Homo sapiens: one gene and its partners. The protein of the gene in region 3 interacts with the protein of the main gene of each other region in a biochemical or structural test. Each region holds a gene or a part of one and is shown on either strand. Other genes may lie near its edges.

Region 1 (7,217 bases), on a different chromosome or scaffold from region 3:
ATCTTGGTCTCTCACGTCTTTAAATAAGATCCTCTAGAGCTTCAGCACACCTATAGTGGCCTGGATGGGCATGTGCCAAGTGTGTAGGGTTGCATACCAGGCCTCTGGGTCAATGGAAAGCCAGAAACAGTGGGGAGAAGAGGGAAGTGCATGGGACGGTGGTGTCTGTTGGACCAGCATGGGTGGCCTAGGCTGCCCAGAACATGAAAGGTGTCCATTTCTTCATAACTCTGGCCGTGGACATGAAGGCCAATTTGGGTTACCTGATAGTTGCCCATTTTATTGACTTAAGGATTTGTTTATATATAGTTAAGATAAATAGAATATGGTAACTTCCTTTAAAGGCTGTGTGTGTGTGTGTAAGAGAGAGAGAGAGAGACAGACAGAAACAGAAGAGAGAGGAGAGAGAGATAGACATACCAATTAAGTTTTTCTTTTTCTTTTTTTTAATGATTTCTTTGCAGCTCTTGAGAAAGTCTATTTTACAAAGAGGAAAACCTGTGGTTGAAGGCTCTTTGGAAAAGAAACCCCCATTTGAAAAACCTAGCATTGAACAGGTAAAAAGATTTTAAAAGCCCTCTTTTTATTGGCTCAAGGCTGAAGAAATCTTTTAATCCTCCTTTTATATCTCTATCTACGGCTTCCCTCCTCCATACCCAGGTTAGAGATGTTTACCAGTCTGTGGAAATTGTCCTGGAGGCTTTGGATCAGAGGTGTATACCTAATTTAATACATGATCTAGCTTTTGCCTTTTAGGGTTGTTACATACTCACAGTTTACTGTGTGTTTGGGGAAGAAAAACATTAAGTAGAACATGTAGTTTGTAAGAAGAACACATGAAATGTGCTTTTTCTTGTTGTTGGTGCTTTAAAATGAAGTCTTTGTCCATTTGCTTGGCACTGTCTGAGAAAGCCTATTGAGGTGAGGGGATTTAGTAGCAATGTGAAAAACATTGTAAGTCAAGCAAAAAAAGCAAAAAAGAAATGAGATTTTGTACCCAGAAATGGACTTCCTGCTACATTATGATTCCTGGAAAGAAGCCGTTTTACTCAGGGAATCTGTTAAAATGTAAAGAGTTTTTCTGTTAGGTGTTGTCAGTATCTCTCATTAGCATCACTTTTTTAGCCTTTGATTGTTTGGCTAAACAAAAACACTCTGGACTGAATTTTTTGATGAGAATGACTACTGAAGTCATGATACCAGAATCCTTAAAAATAAATGCATTTTTATCAGTCAGTTTTCAGTAAATTTTATTTTGCCTCCAAACTCTATTAAATAAGAATTCATTGCTCTTTTATTTGAAATTAGATGAGATGGAAATATTCTGTAGAAAGATTAAATTAACAGTTTTTTTAAAAGCCCATAATTTTGAATGATATATATATTTTGGTAAGCTTATTGACTTCAAACAAATGATAGTAAAGAGTTTAAATTTTAGTTGTTTAGTTCAGTGGTAGGCATGATAGCAGGTTTTTGATTAGCATTTTTGTAATGTAAAAACAATATTTATCTAAGAACTGCATTATATGTGGGCTACTCTGCTGATAGTAAAGCAATAATTATTCTGCACAACAGTCATATTTTCTTGTTTCAGGGGTTTTGACCTTTTCAGTCCATGGTTTTGATTTTCTCCTTAATGCTTCAGGATTTCAGCAGGCGTAGAATCACAACTCACAGCCTCTCTGTCTTGTCACTTTTCATCCACCGTGATCTGAGGCAAGATTCCCTCTGGGGATTGCTATTTTCTTTTAGGGAAAAGGAAGAGATTTTTGTGAATAGAGAAATGTCTGTTATTTTGCTAATAACCACCAATCATGCTGGCTGTGTGGGTGTTCAGAATTAGTATGATTGCATAGCTGCATGAAGAAATTGCCTTCCCTCTTTTTAAGGGTGTGAATAACTTTGTGCAGTACAAATTTAGTCACCTGCCAGCAAAAGAAAGGCAAACAATAGTTGAGTTGGCAAAAATGTTCCTAAACCGCATCAACTATTGGCATCTGGAGGCACCATCTCAACGAAGACTGCGATCTCCCAATGATGATATTTCTGGATACAAAGAGAACTACACAAGGTAATCAGATGCAAGTTCTTTTCCTTTGGCCCCATAAAGCCTGTTACAGACCTAAAATTGTACTTGACTCTATAAGTATAGGGCTGCCTAGTTATCATTATGACTCCATCAATTCAGAGATAATGTCTTTATAATTTAACTTGCAAACTCCTGCTTTTCATTGCTATCATAATATGTTGAGGTGTGAGGGATGTAAATCATCTATACCCAGTGTGATAGCCACTAGCTATATGAGCACTTGAAAATGTGGCTAGTTTGAATTGAGATTTCTATGATTGTACCAAAAAGGAGTTTAAAATTGCTCATTAATACTTTTAAAATATTGATTACATGTAGAAATGATAGTACATTGGATACATTGGATTAAATAAAATATATTGAAGTTAATTTTACCTGTTTTTACCATTCCAGTGTGGCTACTAGAAAATTTAAAATCCATATGTGGCTTGTGTTATTTATCTATTGAATATAGTTGACTAGATAGCTACACTATAACTCTGAAATTAATTAGAGCCCTCACTCAAAAAATGCAATGACCATATAATGAAGTTAAAGAATTTTTTTTAGGCTGGGCATGGTGGCTCACACCTGTAATCCTAGCACTTTGGGAGTCTAAAGTGGGTAGATCACTTGGGTCAGGAGTTCAAGACCAGCCTGGCCAATATGGTGAAACCCCATCTCTACTAAAAATACAAAAATTAACTGGGCATGGTGTCACGTGACTGTAATCCTGGCTACTTGGGAGGCTGAGGCAGGAGAATCACTTGAACCCTGGAGGCAGAGTTTGCAGTGAACTGAGATCGTGCACTCTGGGCAACAGAGCAAGACTCTGTCTCAAAAAAAAAATTTTTTTTAAAGGAAAGATTAGCTTAGTTCCAGAACTGTGATGGAACTGACATCATTATACATATTATCTTCCAGGTTTTGTCCTTTTAAATAACATTTTACATTAGTTATAATGAAAGAAAATGTAGAATTTTGTAGCCTTTATGTCTCTTCACTTAATATCATATCAAACATTTCACAGGTTACATTATAGTCCATTGAGTTGATTTACCACAATTTACCTAACCATTTCTCTATTGCTGGACATTCAAACTCTGCAGATAGTCTTGGATTGAACATATATTTTCTTCTAAAGTGGAAATTTATTTTTATTGCTTATTACTTGCAGAATAACAGAATTGGTTTTACAAATCTTAAACTTGTACCATACAAAATATAAGGACCTACATTTATTTTCATCTGAAGGACTGTGACTTGGGTCATCCATTCTTTTCAACTTTTTTATAACTTTTCTATAACTTTTCTCTGTTTATATTTCAGAGGCACATCAAGCTTGCATTAGGGAGCTTTAGTGCCTACTTTTTTCCTGATTTAAAGTGGGCAGTAGTATCTTTTGATAGCCTGTCAAGACCACTTGTGCCCAGGTTATTTTCTGTAACAGCAGATAACATGGAAGAATTGTATAATTTAAAATAAGCTTTCCTCTCTGACATTGACCTAGTTTCATGTGTAACACACCCTTTTCCTCTCTTTCTCTTCACTTTTGCAAATATATGCAATTTCAGTTATAAAGTATTTTCTCCTTAATAATTGATATTTATAGGAATTGCAGATTTCTTCAAAATAAGTTTTTAAATTATATCTTCATTTCCGTATCTTTCATTTTAGGATTTTACATTAACAATAGTTCTGTATTATTGAAACTCTGCTATATTATTGAAACTCTTGTTTATAATAAGAGTTGAGACGATAAGTCTCTCAAAAATATGTATTTTTTAATCCCGTCTGTGAACAATTGACAAAGCTGAATATTTGTCAAAGCCAGGGCCCTGAATGCATTTGCGACTTTTAGCAGAGAAAATAATCGTTTCATCAAGAAAAAGGAGAATTAATTGTGAAGCAGCTTGGGAGACATTAGTATATTTTGTTTTATTTTTATTTTTATTTTTTTTAGAGATGGTGTCTTATTCTGTATCCTGGGCTGGAGCGCAGTGGCATGATCATAGCTCACTGTAGCCTCAACCTCCTAGACTCAAGCAATTCATCTATCTCAGCCTCCTTAGTAGCTGGGACTACAGGCACATGCCACCATGCCTGGCTATTTGTTTATTTTTTATAGAGATGGGGTCTCGCTGTGTTGCCCAGGCTGGTCTCAAACTCCTGACCTCAAGCAATCCTCCCACCTTGGCCTCCCAAAGTGCTGAGATTACATGTGTGAGTCACTGTGCCCAGCTATGATATTTTAGAAAACAGAAGAAAAATGCAAGGCAGCCTTTGAGAATTACTAAGAAATTGGTGGCACTTATGAATACTTAAGAAGTAGTAAAAATGGAAATTGGTTTGGATGAGTGCTGGGTTTGAATGGTGTGGGTCCATCTCTCCCTTTTTACATGAGCTTTAGACCAGTCTCTGGTCTAAAGAGACTTTTGGTTTCTTTCTCTGTCCAAGTGTCATGACTTTTGTGAGTATTCCATGGGTGGTTTGTATGTAGTTTCTGACACACAGAGCAGGTGCTGGGAAGATGCTCATCATCATTTTCCTCCCATGCACATTGTTCTCTAAAACTCAGTCACTGCCAATGTGGAGCTTATTAAGCTAAAGCCTTAAATGTATAATTGAGTGAGTGTGTAATTATTTGAATATCGCTTTAGAAATTAAGATAGCAGGGAATAGAAAAACAGCAAAAGAGTCCTTTATAGCCCAGCCTCCTGAGCCAACAGCTGAAGGCAAAAAGTGGAGTCAGACAATGGGAAAGAGAAACTTGCTGAGAGAAACAGAAATGAATATGCCCTAATGAGTTCTGAAACGTGCTGATTTCTAGGTGAAATGTAGACCAATAGCCCCTATTAATAATAAATAAGGAAATGAAGGTAGATGACACCAACCTCCCCCACGTCCCCACCATCACGTCATGTTGATGAGGAAAGGGAAGTAGAGAGGAACAACCTGTGAAAATTAGGAGAATCAATATTCGGAGTAAAACCTCACTGCCATGACCACATGGGGAATTAAAAAAACCACATACCACCACAGCATGATGTCTCACTGATACTGATCTTCTCAAAAATGGGTAATATTACTGGCTGCAGGCACCAGCAGGCTTTATCTTGATGTTGCTGTAAGAGAACCTCAGGACCTATAACGCTGGTTCAGCTTATAACTTACAGCAGTTACTGTAAATATTAGAACAAAGATGTGCCGAAAATGTTTGCAGTATATCAGTCTGAAAATGAAGTTAAACAGGATTCTTTGTGGAAAAGACTGGACTTAGAAAATGATTGTGTTCATTACAGAGCTAACTTGTAAATATTTATTCCATAAAAATTAAAAGCAGACTGAACAGTAGTACTGCTTAAATTACTTCTCTGTTCTGAAGAAAAGAAAAATATAAGTATTCTTTTTTTGTTGTTTTTTTGTTTTTTTTTTTTTTGAGATGGAGTCTCACTCTGTTGTCCAGGCTGGAGTGCAGTGGCGCGACTCAGCTCACTGCAACCTCCACCTCCTGAGTTCAGGCGATTTTCCTGCCTTAGCCTCCCAAGTAGCTAGGATTACAAGTGCGTGCCACCATGCCTGGCTAATTTTTGTATTTTTAGTAAAGATGGGGTTTCACCATGTTGGCCAGGCTAGTCTCGAACTCCTGACCTCAGGTGATCTGCCTACCTCGTCCTCCTAAAGTGCTGGGATTAAAGGCGTGAGCCACCTTGCTCAACCTAAATATTGTTACATAAGTGTATGTTAACTGTACCTTATATATACTCCCAGGAGCAATTGTGGTTATAGAAAAAAATGTGGGCAAATATTTTGAAGTTCCTGAATTTCATGATAGTACACTATTTAATTCCATGAAGAAATAACCTAAAAAGAAAGTGTCACAGGATTATGACTTCTTAAAATACAACTGTCCAACAGTCTGCTGAAGGAAAGTGCAAGTAATTAGTCTTAGATTTTGAATTGTGTAGAACTTTTGAAAGTTAAAGCTTACCCCCACACTGGGGAGATGTTTCATAAGAATACAGAGTGGCTGTGTGCAGTAGCTGATGCCTGTAATCCCAGCAACTTTGGGAGGCTGAGGCGAGAGGATCGCTTGAGCCCAGGAGTTTGAGCCCAGCCTGGGCAACAGAATGAGACTTCATCTCTACAAAAATAAAAATAAAAAACTAGCTGGGTGTGGTGGCATGTGTCTGTGGTGGCATGAGCCTGTGGTCCCAGCGACTCTGGAGGTTGAGGTGGGAGGATTGCTTGAGCCCGGGAGGTCAAGGCTGCTTGGAGCTGTCCATGATCCTACCACTGCACTCCGGCCTGGGTGACAGAGCACGACCCTGTCTGAAAAAAAAAAAAAAAAAAGAAGAAGAAGAAGAAAAAGAATACATAGCAAGTTAGCTAGAACTAACTTGTTTTTGGGAAACAGTTTTATTTAGCCATTCTTCTATGATGTACAGCCTATTGCCATGTATACTGAGCATTCATTATTAGACATGTAAGTCTAGAACAGATTTATCAGGAAGCATGGAAAGAACACTAGGAAACAGGAGATCTGACTTCTAGTCTGGACTTTAATTAAGTAACTGGGCCTCAGTCCCTGTGAACTAGGGCAGATCAGTTTATTCCTGAAAACCACAGGATTTTCAGTTCAGCAAGTCAGTAGAATGACATGGTCTTCTGTGTTCACATTTTTAATTTCTGTTCACAGAAGTTACAAATCATCATCATGATGTGAAAAATCTGGGAGTTATTTGAACAGTAAGAAAATAGCATGCAAATACCATCTTTATTAGACATACAAAAATGAACGAACTATCATTTTGCTTCTTTTTAGTAGACCCGAAATCAGTCATGTAGGTAAAATCTTTTCTACAGTTACTTCTTTGGAGGAATACATGTGCTCATGCACGTCCGTTTCCTTCTTTCTGTCTCACTGTGTGCAATAATAATATCAATCAATTTATTAAAACAACACCAGAAGTACACACACACACACACACACACACACATTCTGTCTCTCTCACACACACACACATTGACTCAGCCTCATTGTCTTAATCTACAGTGAATTTAACAGAGTACAAAATAAGATTAATCTTGGAAGTTAAGAAAAAGCTGAAAAGTATAAATTGAGGTCTATAAAATGACTTTGAGGAAA
Region 2 (7,217 bases), on a different chromosome or scaffold from region 3:
GGAAGAAGCTTCTGCTGTGATGTGAGTAGAGGTCTGTGCAGGCTTTAGAAACTGGGGCTCCACTCGGCTGCTTGAGATGCCCTGTTACTAGCAGTCCTGGTGTGCTTGTTGCCGGGGTAGGCGCAACCTCGCACTGGAGGCCTGGCTTGAAGCCAGTGCATTTGCATCAGAGCCCAGGCAGGGACTGTCCATAGGAAGCCACATGGGGCAATGACTCATCCAAGGCCAGTCGGTGATAGAGACCTGAAGAGCAGGTTGAAAGTGGGAGAGGGAGGTCTGTGTCTGCAGCCCCATGCTTTATTTCTGCAGGAAGCCCTCCCGGGAACACCCAGCAGCCGCTGCCTGGCCTGCCACTGGCTTCCCCGCCAGGGGTCCCGCCCGTCTCCTTGCACACCCAGGTCCAGAGTGTGGTCCCCCAGCAGCTACTGACAGTCACAGCTGCCCCCACGGCAGCCCCTGTAACGACCACTGTGACCTCGCAGATCCAGCAGGTCCCGGTGAGGGGGTCTGGCCAGGGGTTGGGGAGGGGGCAGCCCCAGCCCAGACACACAGCTTACAGCCAAGCCTCTCCCACCCTCAGGTCCTGCTGCAGCCCCACTTCATCAAGGCAGACTCGCTGCTTCTGACAGCCATGAAGACAGACGGAGCCACTGTGAAGGCGGCAGGTCTCAGTCCCCTGGTCTCTGGCACCACTGTGCAGACAGGGCCTTTGCCGGTGGGTGACGTGGGCAGGGCATAAGGGAGTGGGGTCTACACACACACACACATGCCCACCTGGTAACATGTGCCTGGCCCTGCAGACCCTGGTGAGTGGCGGAACCATCTTGGCAACAGTCCCACTGGTCGTAGATGCGGAGAAGCTGCCTATCAACCGGCTCGCAGCTGGCAGCAAGGCCCCGGCCTCTGCCCAGAGCCGTGGAGAGAAGCGCACAGCCCACAACGCCATTGAGAAGCGCTACCGCTCCTCCATCAATGACAAAATCATTGAGCTCAAGGATCTGGTGGTGGGCACTGAGGCAAAGGTGTGGAGAGGCCTGCAGGGGCACAGACCGGGGTGTCCCTAGGAAGGAACAGATCAGGGGCAACTGGAAGGAAGAGAGGGAGTGAGACTGAGCCTGGACAAGCAGGGAATTGGAATTCAGCCTCCCCAGGCCTGGCCAGCCTCGTTTATTTAGTTAAACTGGTTTGCAGGCCTCTTCAATAAAGGTGGGGCTGTGCTAGGCATTGGGGATGCAGCAATGAACAAGACAGACAAAAATTGTCCCTCAAAGAAGAGCCGACCTTCTGGTGGGGGAGATGGACAGTAGGCAGGATGAATAAGTGCTCGAGACCACCACGTTTGGCTCGTTGCAGAGAAAGCAGGAAGAGGATGGTGAGGGTCCCCTGGTGGTAGCCAGGGAAGGCCTCCCTGAGATGGCGGCAGGCACAGCAGCAGCTAGCCAGACCCTGCTGTCTGCATCTTACATTCTAACCCTATGCCCGGCCTGGGAGGTGGGTGCTACTAGGCGAGGAACGGTTCAGGTAGAAGGAACAAGTGCAAAGGTCCTGAGGCAGTAATGTTGCAAAGCAGCTCCGCACCCCCTTGCTAGGGCTCTCCAACCCCACAACCCCCGACCTGACAGGCCACCTGTGCGCTCCCCCTCCCTCCCACACCGTGCAGCTGAATAAATCTGCTGTCTTGCGCAAGGCCATCGACTACATTCGCTTTCTGCAACACAGCAACCAGAAACTCAAGCAGGAGAACCTAAGTCTGCGCACTGCTGTCCACAAAAGCAGTGAGTCCTGGCTTTATTGAGCTCCAGTCTGGCCTCTTCTCTAGCCTTGCTCCACCTCCCGGCCCCACCCCATCCCTAGCCCCACCCCACCCTTGGTTCTGGCCCACCCTCTGCCCTGCCCACCTCACCCTTGGCTGTAGCCCTGCATTCAGCTCTAGTCCCTTGGTTACCTCTGGTCCTGAAAGAGACCTGGTGCCTCCCTTTGGCCCTAACCCAGCCCCATCAAAGCGTCCTGGGCTAGCTTTAGGAGCTACAGTAGTCCCTAGGCCTCCAAGGGCCTAGGCTCTGATTTGGGGTCACATATCCAGCCTTTACTCCTGGCTCTGTTCCTTTCGGCCCACAGAATCTCTGAAGGATCTGGTGTCGGCCTGTGGCAGTGGAGGGAACACAGACGTGCTCATGGAGGGCGTGAAGACTGAGGTGGAGGACACACTGACCCCACCCCCCTCGGATGCTGGCTCACCTTTCCAGAGCAGCCCCTTGTCCCTTGGCAGCAGGGGCAGTGGCAGCGGTGGCAGTGGCAGTGACTCGGAGCCTGACAGCCCAGTCTTTGAGGACAGCAAGGTTGGGCCCTGCCACGGTGCCCCCTTCCCCACTCCCAGCCATATCCTCTGAGCCTCATGACAGGGCCGGGAAGACCCTAACAGATCCTACCTCCCATTTCATAGACAGAATAACTGAGGCCTGGAGCCACGTGGGGTCCCACAGTAAGGTGGGCAGAATCCTGACCCCCCCCTTCCCAGCCCCATGCTCTCTGGGGTCCCTCCGATTCTGCCCTCACCACCCTGCCCAACCCCACCAGGCAAAGCCAGAGCAGCGGCCGTCTCTGCACAGCCGGGGCATGCTGGACCGCTCCCGCCTGGCCCTGTGCACGCTCGTCTTCCTCTGCCTGTCCTGCAACCCCTTGGCCTCCTTGCTGGGGGCCCGGGGGCTTCCCAGCCCCTCAGATACCACCAGCGTCTACCATAGCCCTGGGCGCAACGTGCTGGGCACCGAGAGCAGAGGTGGGACCGGCCAGCCTGGGCATCTTTGGGAGGGACACTCGGGGTGAGCCCCCAGGCTTGTGAACTTGGGGCTCTGGATTTCCTGGGAGCTGTGTCCCCAGCTTTCCCTCTGTCCATAGATGGCCCTGGCTGGGCCCAGTGGCTGCTGCCCCCAGTGGTCTGGCTGCTCAATGGGCTGTTGGTGCTCGTCTCCTTGGTGCTTCTCTTTGTCTACGGTGAGCCAGTCACACGGCCCCACTCAGGCCCCGCCGTGTACTTCTGGAGGCATCGCAAGCAGGCTGACCTGGACCTGGCCCGGGTAAGGGGCTGGCCCCGGCAGAGTGGGCAGGGCAGGGACCCCAGGCTGTGAAGGTGCTGGGTGTCAACCCTTGTTCCTGCTCCCTGTGCACACCATGAATCTGTCCCGTCCTCCCTGTGCCTAGCCACGCATCCGCAGACCCCCACCACCCCTCCAGAGCCTGCTGTGGACGGCTCTTCTGAGCTTTGGGGCAGCTGCTCTGACCTCACTTTTCTCACCTGGAAAACCCTCATCCACAGGGAGACTTTGCCCAGGCTGCCCAGCAGCTGTGGCTGGCCCTGCGGGCACTGGGCCGGCCCCTGCCCACCTCCCACCTGGACCTGGCTTGTAGCCTCCTCTGGAACCTCATCCGTCACCTGCTGCAGCGTCTCTGGGTGGGCCGCTGGCTGGCAGGCCGGGCAGGGGGCCTGCAGCAGGACTGTGCTCTGCGAGTGGATGCTAGCGCCAGCGCCCGAGACGCAGCCCTGGTCTACCATAAGCTGCACCAGCTGCACACCATGGGTAGGACTGAGCGTGGGGCGGGCTCCGAGGTGCTCCCTGCTGCCTGTGCTCCACCCACAGCCTCATGCCTGCTTGCCTTCCAGGGAAGCACACAGGCGGGCACCTCACTGCCACCAACCTGGCGCTGAGTGCCCTGAACCTGGCAGAGTGTGCAGGGGATGCCGTGTCTGTGGCGACGCTGGCCGAGATCTATGTGGCGGCTGCATTGAGAGTGAAGACCAGTCTCCCACGGGCCTTGCATTTTCTGACAGTGAGTGGGTTGGGGGGCTGGGGGCTTATCCCTGCAGCTCTCTCCAGAGGCTCCCTGGGTAAGAGCTACACGGGATGTGGCAGTGGTTACCAGGGGGACTCCAGGCCAAGCTGGGACTCGGCCCGGGGTCTGGCCCCAGGCTGTGTCCACTGTGACAGCCCAGTACCCTCCCCTACAGCGCTTCTTCCTGAGCAGTGCCCGCCAGGCCTGCCTGGCACAGAGTGGCTCAGTGCCTCCTGCCATGCAGTGGCTCTGCCACCCCGTGGGCCACCGTTTCTTCGTGGATGGGGACTGGTCCGTGCTCAGTACCCCATGGGAGAGCCTGTACAGCTTGGCCGGGAACCCAGGTGCTCTCTTACCCCTTCCCTGTCCCCTCTCCTGTCCCTCATCCTCATTCCTGTCCTGTCCCTTGTCGCCTGAATCTCTGGCTGTCTCTGGCCACCCCAGTCCTTCTCCCTGCCATGGGTTGTTGCTGTGGGGGTTGCAGGAAGGGAAAGGCCTGGGTGCCTCTCGTTCCCATTGGGGCTTTCAGAAGCACATGCAGGGATTGATGGGCAGATGGCTAATTGGAGAAGTGACCCCAGGCAGTGCCGCTGTGGAGTAAGGAAGCGGAGCCAACAATGGCATCTTCTCAAGTCGGTTTTCCTTTGGAAGCAGTGTAGGGCAGGCCTCAGTGTTGTCTCCTGGCCAAGGCTGGTGCTGGTGATAGTTATGTCCACCCGCTTTCCCCTGTCCTTGGCAGGGGCTGCACCCAGGGGCATGCCGGCACTTCCCAGTGGCCCTAGGTGTGGCCCCAGCCCACCCAGGAAAAAGCCCTTAGCTTGGAGAGGAGGGTGGGGCCCTGCTCCCCACCCCACTCACCTCCTCCTCTCCACAGTGGACCCCCTGGCCCAGGTGACTCAGCTATTCCGGGAACATCTCTTAGAGCGAGCACTGAACTGTGTGACCCAGCCCAACCCCAGCCCTGGGTCAGCTGATGGGGACAAGTAAGTGTCGTTGTGCCCTCCTCCAGGCAAGGCCCCTCCGGCGGGATTCTGAGAATAGCTCTGGCCTCAACCCTGTGGAGAGAGCCCAGAGCTGGGCTACCGTGCGTGCCATGCACGCTTCATTCCTCTCTGAGTTTCCTCTCCCCACCAGCCTGTGGGAGGAGACAGTGGCACTTTGCAGAGCCAGGGGCCAGGCTGTACTCTGGAGGGCAGGTGGGGAGCACCCTCCTAGGACCCCTGCCATCTGTTCCGACAGCCAGCTCTCTCCTTCCACAGGGAATTCTCGGATGCCCTCGGGTACCTGCAGCTGCTGAACAGCTGTTCTGATGCTGCGGGGGCTCCTGCCTACAGCTTCTCCATCAGTTCCAGCATGGCCACCACCACCGGTGAGTCCCCGGCCCCTGTCCTGGCTCCCTTCTCAGCTCCCCCGTGCAGCGTGACTGAGGGTTCAGGGGACCCTCCCTCTTCTGCAGGCGTAGACCCGGTGGCCAAGTGGTGGGCCTCTCTGACAGCTGTGGTGATCCACTGGCTGCGGCGGGATGAGGAGGCGGCTGAGCGGCTGTGCCCGCTGGTGGAGCACCTGCCCCGGGTGCTGCAGGAGTCTGAGTGAGTGCACGGCAGGTTCCTCCTGCCTGGTCCCGGGCTCAGCCTTCCTCATCCCCTGGGCACTGTGCCTCACTCAGCCTTTGTTCTGTGCAGGAGGAGTCACCACCTTTTTTCCTCAGGGAACTCGAGCCAGGGAAGTGGGGGGCACTCAGCCAGGGCTTGTGGACTGGTCTGACTGGCACTCTTCTGCCCTGGTCCCAACAGGAGACCCCTGCCCAGGGCAGCTCTGCACTCCTTCAAGGCTGCCCGGGCCCTGCTGGGCTGTGCCAAGGCAGAGTCTGGTCCAGCCAGCCTGACCATCTGTGAGAAGGCCAGTGGGTACCTGCAGGACAGCCTGGCTACCACACCAGCCAGCAGCTCCATTGACAAGGTGAGGGGTGGGGTCAGGGGCCTGGCAGGGCTGGGGGATTCAGCTTTCCATTCCCTGGTTCCTCTCCCCAGCCCCCAGGGGCTGCAGAAGACCATGGGGTTAGCCCAAGCAGCACAGGATAGGGGGTCCAGCAGACCCTGCTTTTTGGCTAAGGCTTCTGTCCAGAGGAGAGGGGTTGCCCCTATCTGGCCTCAGTTTCCCCATCCCTGGGAGGAGGGGGGTGGATGGTGTGGTAGGATCCCTTTGGAGGCCCTGCATCAGGAGGGCTGGACAGCTGCTCCCGGGCCGGTGGCGGGTGTGGGGGCCGAGAGAGGCGGGCGGCCCCGCGGTGCATTGCTGTTGCATTGCACGTGTGTGAGGCGGGTGCAGTGCCTCGGCAGTGCAGCCCGGAGCCGGCCCCTGGCACCACGGGCCCCCATCCTGCCCCTCCCAGAGCTGGAGCCCTGGTGACCCCTGCCCTGCCTGCCACCCCCAGGCCGTGCAGCTGTTCCTGTGTGACCTGCTTCTTGTGGTGCGCACCAGCCTGTGGCGGCAGCAGCAGCCCCCGGCCCCGGCCCCAGCAGCCCAGGGCACCAGCAGCAGGCCCCAGGCTTCCGCCCTTGAGCTGCGTGGCTTCCAACGGGACCTGAGCAGCCTGAGGCGGCTGGCACAGAGCTTCCGGCCCGCCATGCGGAGGGTGAGTGCCCGATGGCCCTGTCCTCAAGACGGGGAGTCAGGCAGTGGTGGAGATGGAGAGCCCTGAGCCTCCACTCTCCTGGCCCCCAGGTGTTCCTACATGAGGCCACGGCCCGGCTGATGGCGGGGGCCAGCCCCACACGGACACACCAGCTCCTCGACCGCAGTCTGAGGCGGCGGGCAGGCCCCGGTGGCAAAGGAGGTGAGGGGGCAGCTGCTGACCAGGGATGTGCTGTCTGCTCAGCAGGGAAGGGCGCACATGGGATGTGATACCAAGGGAGGCTGTGTGTGTGTCAGACGGGACAGACAGGCCTGGCGCAGTGGCTCACACCTAGCACTTTGGGAGGCTCAGTTGGGAGGACAGCTTGAGCCCAGGAGTTGGAGGCCGCAGTGAGCCTGAGTGACAGGGAGAGTCCCTGTCTCAAAAAAAAAAAAAGACCAAGCATCTTCTTGATGGTTACCTGATGACAATTCCTTTCACAAGGAATCAGTGGGGTGACTGTCATTTGTGGGATACATGACTGCACGTGCGTGACTCAGTCTGTGGACTTTGTGTGTGGGCTGAGACTAGGGTGGGGAGAGGGGAACCCGCCAGGCCCCCGCCAGGTACCTGTGTGCCAGGTACAGGCGGCTGGTGCCGTGGCTTGTGTGTGGGCAGGGCTCCCGCGGGGGCGTGGCCAGCTTGAGACCCATCCCTGACACATCCTCGTGTGCGCAGGCGCGGTGGCGGAGCTGGAGCCGCGGCCCACGCG
Region 3 (7,375 bases):
CTTGGAGGCCGGCTTCCACCCTGGAGGTAGGACTTCTGATGTCTGCACACCTGAAGGGTGGAATAGTTTCTCTGCTTCAAGAACGAGCACTGTAGCACACTGCAGACACTCAAAGGGTTGGTCCCGTGCTCTTTTGCCTGCCTTCGGTTTCCAGGCGCTCCGAGGAAACTGGCCCCACCTACAGCGGGAGGCCCGGGTCTCCAGAGCCCCTGCGCCAATATTCTAGTCAAGAGGCTCGCGCGGGGCCAGAGCCTGAAGCGGGAGATGAACCCACCAGGAAGACATCCCAAGGCTGAGGCCCTGACAAGCCGGCCCCGCCCACGACGGCGAGCCCCTCCCCTCGGCCACCCCCCTCCTCAATTCCCCGCTACCGGTGCTGCCGAGTGGCAGGCCACCCTGACAGAGGCCGTAGAAAAATTTCCCAAACATTAAGTATCCTGCCCAGCACGGGCATCATCCCCCAAAGCGGATCTCAACCCCAGCCACGCCCCAATCGCTGCCCCCACCCGATACTCAGGATCCACCTGGAGCCGAGCTGAGCCTAGCCTGGCCCCTCCCCCAGGGCCACACCCACCCTGCAGCCGCGTCCCGAGCTGAACTCTGAGCCCACACTGACTCCCACCCCCAACCTGAGCCCCCACACCCTTAACTGACCCCGAATGCCTAGAAATGGCCCCGCTCTCACCCTCTACCCCATCACCTGCCACGTGGTTTGGAGCGGCCACAAAAGCCTCCCTGGGGAAAGTTAGTCCGAGATCTGAAAGCCTCACCTGCAGACCTTGGGCCCTTTCAGTTCCAAATGGTAAAAAAAAGGGGCCTTCAGCTCTAGGGTATCCAAGGCTGCAGCTTCTTTTTATGCCTTTTAATCACTATGTGAACTATTTTACAAATGAGAGACCACCACCCTTGGTCACAAGACAACAGTATTCAGTAGACGGGTTTTGAGCCTGCCCCCAAGGTAGAAGAGGTGAGTGTCACAGAAGAACTCACGTGAGCTCAGAGGAAGCATACAATTCTTTACACCAAAATGGGGAAGGATTGCCGTCCATTAAAATATTTTCATCTTTATGTTAAAAACGAAACAAAAAGGGGGGAGGGAACCGCCACAGATGAATCAACTACAAAGTATCGGGCCGCGCGTGGGAACTGTTGCCGCTGGGCTGGCGGGGGCGGGCGGTGATCCCCAGGCTGGAGGCTCAGCGCCCGCCCTGGTGCAGGTGCCGCCCGCCCCGCACCGGCCCAGGGCAGGTGAGAGGTGGGCAGGCGAGAGGGCAGCACGGAGGATGGGCAGCGGCCAGGGCATTCCTTTCCGGAGAGAGCCTCGAGGCCGAGGAGCCTAGGGCCGGGCGCGCCCCCGCCGGGCCGGATGGGCGGGGGCTCCCACAAAGAGCCGCAGGCGGGGAGCGGGACCCGGGACCGCCCCCCGCATCGCCAAGCGCCGCCGCTGACTTTGGTTACGACAAATTAAACCTTAGAGCGCTGGAAAAATTACAGGAAGAAGAGAGCGAAGAATGTGCCGAGTGGCGAAGGAAACCTTGTCCCTGCGTGAACTTCGCCCGCCGCGCGCCGGGGCCGGCCCCTCCCCTCCTGAGCGCGCGCCCGGGCAGCGGGGGAGGAAACGAGGAGGGACCCCGGAGAGCGTCCCCTGCCCCCGCTCCGGGCGCCCCACCGTCACGAGTGCCGCCTGCGGTCCACACCCAGGCCGCCCGCACCTGCCCGCGCCGCCTCCCGGCCGGGAGGGGTCCCCGCCCCCAGCCCAGATGACTATATCCGCCCCCGCGGCCCCACCCGAGCGCGCCCGGGGAGGGGGCGTGCCCGGCGGGGGCGCGGTCGCCTGGCGGGCGCCGGCTCCGAGAGCCAAGACCCGCCTCGCGCGACGCGCGGGGCCAGCCGCGGGTCGGAGCGGCAGGGGAAGGGGCGAGGCCCCGGGCGTTCCGGCCCGCCCGGCCCCCACCTCGCGCCCCATCGGGGACTCCGGGGGCGTGGTCGGGCAGCTCGCGCCGACCCCGTCCGCGCGATCCGGGCGCCCGCGCCGCCCCACTGACCTGTGTGAGTTCTCAGGTGCGCCTTGAGGTGCGAAGATTTCCCGTAAACTTTCTCGCAGCCCGCGTAGTGGCACTTGTGCTTCCTCTGCGGGGACTCGAGGTCGGCGCGACTTCGGCCCCGCCGGACCCTTTGTCTGAGGCCGGGCTCGCCGCTCCCCGCGGGCCCCGGCTCCCGCTCGGGCTCCAGCCCCGCCTCGGGCTCCGGCTCGCTCCACGCCGGGCTGGGGGGCGCGGCCGCCGCGCCTTCGGCGCCGGGGGAGGTGGGCTCGGGGGCGGGCGGCGGCAGGCGGCAGGGGGTCCTCGCCTTCCGGGCCGCGGCGCCCTCCCTGCGCTCCGCCGGGGCGGGCGCCGGCGCTTGCTGGTTGAGGTCCGCTAGGATCCGCGCCACCACGAAGAGCGAGGCGCTGTCCTTACCGTCGCGGCGCTCCTCGACGCGGGGCAGCGTGGGGGTGGCGGCCACGGCCGCGCCCTCGGGCCGGGACTCCGGCCCCTCCCGCGGCCCGTGCACGACCGCGCGGCTCGACATGGACACGAGGCACTCGGCGGCGAAGTGGTCCACATAGGCGGCGGCTGCCATGCTGCGGGCTGGGGCCGGCGGCGGTGCTCTTGCTGCGAGTCGTCAGCCGCGCATCCGCACCCACGGCCTCGGGAGAGCGGGCGGGGGGCGGGGGCGCGGCGCGCCCTCTCCTCGGGCTGGGCTGGGCTGGGCTGGGCGCGCAGCCGCCTGTGCCGTCACCCGCGCGGCTCCGCGTCTGCGAGGCGCCGGCCCGGCCGGGCACCGAAGAGTGAGCGCATGGGGCGCGCGGGCGACTGGGGTCCCCGCGCGGCGTCAGGGGCGGCCGGTTCTAAGGATGCCGAGCGGCAACGTTAGGGACCACCTCGCCAAGTCGCGGCCGCAGCTTCGCCGCGCATTGTGGCAGGCGGGACAGCTGCCGTGCGCGCCGCGGCTCCGTGTGGGCGGCCCGGCCCCGGGGGTGGGCGGGGCCGGGGCCACATCTGGACCCGACGTCAGCCCCCAGCCACATCCTGGCGGCGCAGGTTACAGGCGGCGGCGGCTGCGGGGAGCTGCGCGCGCGGAGGGGGCGGGGACCCCAGAGCGCGCACCGGCGGAACGGAGCGGTCGCGTGCCCGCGCCTGGGCAAGGGGGCGTGACCGAGGGCCGGGACAGACGCCATTGGTCCGTGAGTGCACGGCCAGGCCAATCCGAGCCGTTAGAGGGGCGTGCCCGGTCCCGGGCCCTGCGCGCGCCAGTGGGCGTGTCCCCTGGGCCGGTGGGAGGAGGGGCGGAAACTGGAGCGGGGCGCGCTGACGCATGACGTCCGGGGGCGGCGGGCCGGGTAGTCGCGGCGCGGAGCGGCTGCTTGTACCCCCCGCGGCGGGGACACAGCGAGCACTTCTCTGCCGGAGCTTTTATGTGGTGACAGCCTTGGCCCCCGGCATGGAGGGGAGCGGTTTCTGGAGGGCGCCATTTGTTCCTCCCGCGATGGGCGCCGGCGGGGAGGCGTGTCTGCCCGGCCGGGCGCGGGGCTGCCTAGGGGCGGAACGCACTCGCGCCGCGCCCTCCGCCGCCGGCTTGCCGGGTGGCCGCGCCTAGAGCCTCAGGCCGCTCGCCCTCCCCACGCCCCTGCCTTGCAGAGCTCCGGGAGTCCGGGCGGGGCAGCTCCCGCGGGAGGGACAGACTCGGGCTCGTTCCTGGGGTCCGGGGTGCGGCCGCGCTGCCCTTCAGCTCGGGTCAGCCCGAGCAGGACTGGCCTCGGCTGGCGGTGAGCCTGGCAGCCCGGGTGGCGCGCCCACCGCGGCCTGTGCCTCCAGAAGCGAACTACGTGCCAGGGCGGCCGGCGCCGCTGCTGAGGGAACGCGGGGCCCCTTCCTCCCCATCCCGCCGCAGGCCCGCTGCCAACTCTTCTAGGCTGCCCCTCTCCCACCGCGGTCGGGGGGGCTTCAAACGCCACCAGCTGCGAGGACCCCGCCCACCGCGCCCCACCCGCCCGCTGTCTGGGCCTCCCGGAGGAAATGCTCGGCTGCGCCCAGCCCGCGCCTCCCAGCCCGGGCTGGGCCACCTTGCCCTTGACTCTCACGGTAACCCCTACCCCAGCCCGCGGCCCCAGCCATTCTCCAGGCCTGGGCCGTCCTCGGAGACGCCGGTGAATAACTTCCCACCGCCGCGGAACCGGGCTCAGCAAACCCCCTACTGCCTCGCCCCGTTGCATTGTGCTTAATGGACGTTCGAAGGAGTCAGCCACCCTTGCTGTGTTCTGAGAGGAGCCTGGAGAATGAAGGAGCCCGGGCACTCACCCTCAGTGGACCCTCGCAGTGGGAGGGGGGTGTCATTCTTCTCTCAGAATTAAGGTTAATAGCCGAGTTCGAGTTCTCACCAAATTAATTTGGGGTTGGAGCTCAGTAAGACTGGTTTTCAGGTAACCGACGAGGGACCGAAACGGCCATTCTGGGTTGCGTGTTACGGTGAACAGCAAACTGCATGGATGTTTGAGCACCCTCAGTATCTGTAACTAAAACCCTGAAATGCGGTCTCGCTGATTGAGTTGCTACCCTCTGGGGAGACTAAAGGTGCTGGACTGGGTCTGGTCCCTTTAGGAGGGTCTGTGCTTGGTAGAAAGTAATCGTGTTTCTTCCAGGCAGATTGTGTTGATGACATTTAATAAGAGACGTGTGTCCTGACCAAGTAATGATTCGGAATGTTCCTCTATTCCCACCACATGTCACAATTAGTCACTTCTTAAGGAAGGAGTGGTCCTACACCAGCTTATCAGCCACCCATACCCTCCTGGCCCCTTTCCAGCCAGCAGAATTCTCCCCAATCTTCAAGGTGCCACGTCTCCCCACTGGGTCACCCCAGCCGGCATACACAATGGTAGGCCGTCTAGAGTCTGCACTATTCTAGTATTAGGCTACTACAGCCATGAACAAAACAGGCCTGCCTTGGGTGAGGGGATGCCCTACGTGGTCAAGGGTCCTCTGCATTGATGCACCCCCCTAAGAGTTTTCCAAGAATGTGGGTCCCAAAGAATTTTGACTGTGCTCTGTGGCATTCTGTATAGAAAACTGAGCTCCTTGGCTGGTTTCTCAAAAATCCACTCATTTGATGATTGTCGTGGTGTTCACTGACTTTATCCCAAACCTACATGGAAGGGTCTTCCGGACAGACAGCTCTTCCCCAAAGAAAATCTCCTCTTAGCTAAGAGTCCATGTTTTCTTTTCTAAGTAAGATTTTGACAGAGATGGCATATGTATATGTGAGGGCTGGGTCGTCTCGTTTCAAATGGAAGCAACAGAAAAGCAGAGCAGGTGTGTCTGGGGCGTATAGAGACTGAAGGCTGAAAGGGTGGTTGAGTTTCTGGGTAAAGTTGGTGGATGGTTAGTATGTATTGACTTTAACTTCCTTCTGGAGCATTTGTTAGAAGGCAGAAATCCACAAAGACAGGGAGAACAAGAGAGGAAGTAACAGCAACGCAGTTCTTGAAGCTAAAATACTTAGCAGATCCAAGAAAATGAAACCCTGAGATAGTAGCTAGGAAGGAAAGCTAAGAACATACTCCATGGAATCCCCCAGAAGGTTCACTAATGGGTGGCACTACGTACCTCTGAATGTGAGAGTAAACGGGGGTGAAAATAAGATTGGCAGAACGTCAGCTTGAGGAGCACTCAGATGCCCATATCTGCACCCCAATTTCATGCAGCCTGACAACTGCCCCTTCCTTGTTCTGACGAAAGGCTGGATATTTATGACCTGAAAAAACTAAAAGGCAGCGTCTTGGGTAGGTGGACACCAGGCACAATTAAGGACAGAGGTACGGTAATAGGATCAGGGGATTAAATACACACATGGATACTGGATGCTGAGACCCACAAACCCCTTTTTGGGATTTCAGAATGCAAGCAGCCAGGAGACTAGAAGGGTCTTTCCTGGGGTAGCCAACCATGCCAAGGGGAAACACCCAGACATTCTAACATTTGTGGCTGCCCAATTAAACAGCCAGCTCACCCTATAGGGAAGGCCACAGTTAACACTGCCACTCATGTGCACAGAAGTTCTCATCAGCCTCTCAGTCCCTCCCAGGCCAAGGACAAGCAGGGAGCCAGAGCTGACCGGCATCTCAGGAAACCCTGTGTCATGAAATACAAAGCCACAATAGAGTTTTTAAAAAGCAAGTTGGAAGAAACAGACTATGCAGAAAGAAAGAAACATCAACAAAACCATCAATAATGTCATTAAATTTTAAAAGACATACAACCTGTGAAGGGAGAACATATATAAAGAAACATTCAGGGGAAAAAAAGTGTTCTTGAGATGTTTACAAGGTAACAGAAATGTAAAAGTAAAAAACCTCCTTGAAAGTAGAACCAAAATTTTTTTTAAAAAATGGAAAGTAGAGAAAAGCTAAATTAGTGGACCAACCAAAAAAATTATTGATCAATGAGTAGGGACCCAAACAGGTGATCAGAGAAAACACAAGAGAGAAAATCGTCAATGAATTATTAATCCAAGAGAGGCCTTCACGACATATGCTGAAAGGGAGAGAGCCCAACACAGTGGGAAAGAATAGCTCTACGCCAAGGCATATCATTGGTGAGTTTCAGAATGCAGGGGACAAAAGTGTCCTAACATTAAAACAGGTCACCTACGGATAGTCGGGTCAGAATGACTGTGGGCCTCTCCACAACAACCAGTTGAAGTTAGAAGGAAGGGAACAAAGCCATGGGAAATAAATGTAAAGGAAAATTATTTTCCAGCCTTCACCCAGCCAAACTATAAACCAAGTATTTTTCAGACGCATGAGGTTTCAAAAAATTTATCCCCCATGCATCCTTTCTCATAGTAGGAAGCCACCAGAGATTATACTTCATCAAAACAAAGATGTAAACCAAGAAAGCAGGAGACGTGATCCACAAAGCAGGGAAGTCATTGCAGGATGGAAGGGAAAGTAAGTCCCAGGTGATAGCTGCCCAGCCAGGTGCAGAGTGTCAGCAGCCCAGGCTGGAGCAGATCGGCAGCTCCAGGAACACGTCTTCAAGAGGTAGAATGAACAGAGTCCCTGTATCAGTCAGGAGAGGCTGGGCCACACTGCAAAGCTCAAAGGTTTATTTCTGGCCATGCTGCGTGTCCATAGGGAGGCACCTGGGGACAGCAGGTTGATGGAGCAGCCTCTGTCTAGAATGTGCTGGTTGCCGCACAGAAGACAAGGGATAGCATGGACCCAAGGGTGTTAACTATCCCTTCTTTCCCACACACGAAATACATTTTACCCCTCCCTGGGTGGGCCTGACCCATCTCACATGCCTTTTTAGTCTGAGTCTAGAGCCCAGAGACA

Evidence for each region.
Region 1: of the proteins of KLF13 (region 3) and KAT2B, one has a biochemical effect on the other in vitro, tested with the Homo sapiens proteins (2 studies listed by BioGRID, with this or other methods).
Region 2: the proteins of KLF13 (region 3) and SREBF1 form a complex in vitro, tested with the Homo sapiens proteins (one study listed by BioGRID).

The regions. Positions count from the first base shown.
Region 1 is NC_000003.12:20,099,398-20,106,614, forward strand, and holds part of KAT2B (histone acetyltransferase KAT2B), read left to right. Parts: intron 1-464; coding exon 465-557; intron 558-1,889; coding exon 1,890-2,071; intron 2,072-7,217. UniProt on the Homo sapiens protein: Functions as a histone acetyltransferase (HAT) to promote transcriptional activation. Has significant histone acetyltransferase activity with core histones (H3 and H4), and also with nucleosome core particles.
Region 2 is NC_000017.11:17,812,818-17,820,034, reverse strand, and holds part of SREBF1 (sterol regulatory element-binding protein 1), read left to right. Parts: intron 1-309; coding exon 310-497; intron 498-580; coding exon 581-715; intron 716-800; coding exon 801-1,022; intron 1,023-1,660; coding exon 1,661-1,775; intron 1,776-2,118; coding exon 2,119-2,339; intron 2,340-2,443; coding exon of another isoform or gene 2,444-2,487; intron 2,488-2,577; coding exon 2,578-2,779; intron 2,780-2,898; coding exon 2,899-3,077; intron 3,078-3,316; coding exon 3,317-3,578; intron 3,579-3,661; coding exon 3,662-3,828; intron 3,829-4,006; coding exon 4,007-4,175; intron 4,176-4,705; coding exon 4,706-4,814; intron 4,815-5,090; coding exon 5,091-5,200; coding exon of another isoform or gene 5,201-5,287; coding exon 5,288-5,420; intron 5,421-5,624; coding exon 5,625-5,790; intron 5,791-6,103; exon of another isoform or gene 6,104-6,199; intron 6,200-6,265; coding exon 6,266-6,466; intron 6,467-6,489; exon of another isoform or gene 6,490-6,555; coding exon 6,556-6,667; intron 6,668-7,183; coding exon 7,184-7,217.
Region 3 is NC_000015.10:31,322,460-31,329,834, reverse strand, and holds the start of KLF13 (Krueppel-like factor 13), read right to left. Parts: upstream 3,001-7,375; 5' UTR 2,623-3,000; coding exon 2,046-2,622; intron 1-2,045. UniProt on the Homo sapiens protein: Transcription factor that activates expression from GC-rich minimal promoter regions, including genes in the cells of the erythroid lineage. Represses transcription by binding to the BTE site, a GC-rich DNA element, in competition with the activator SP1.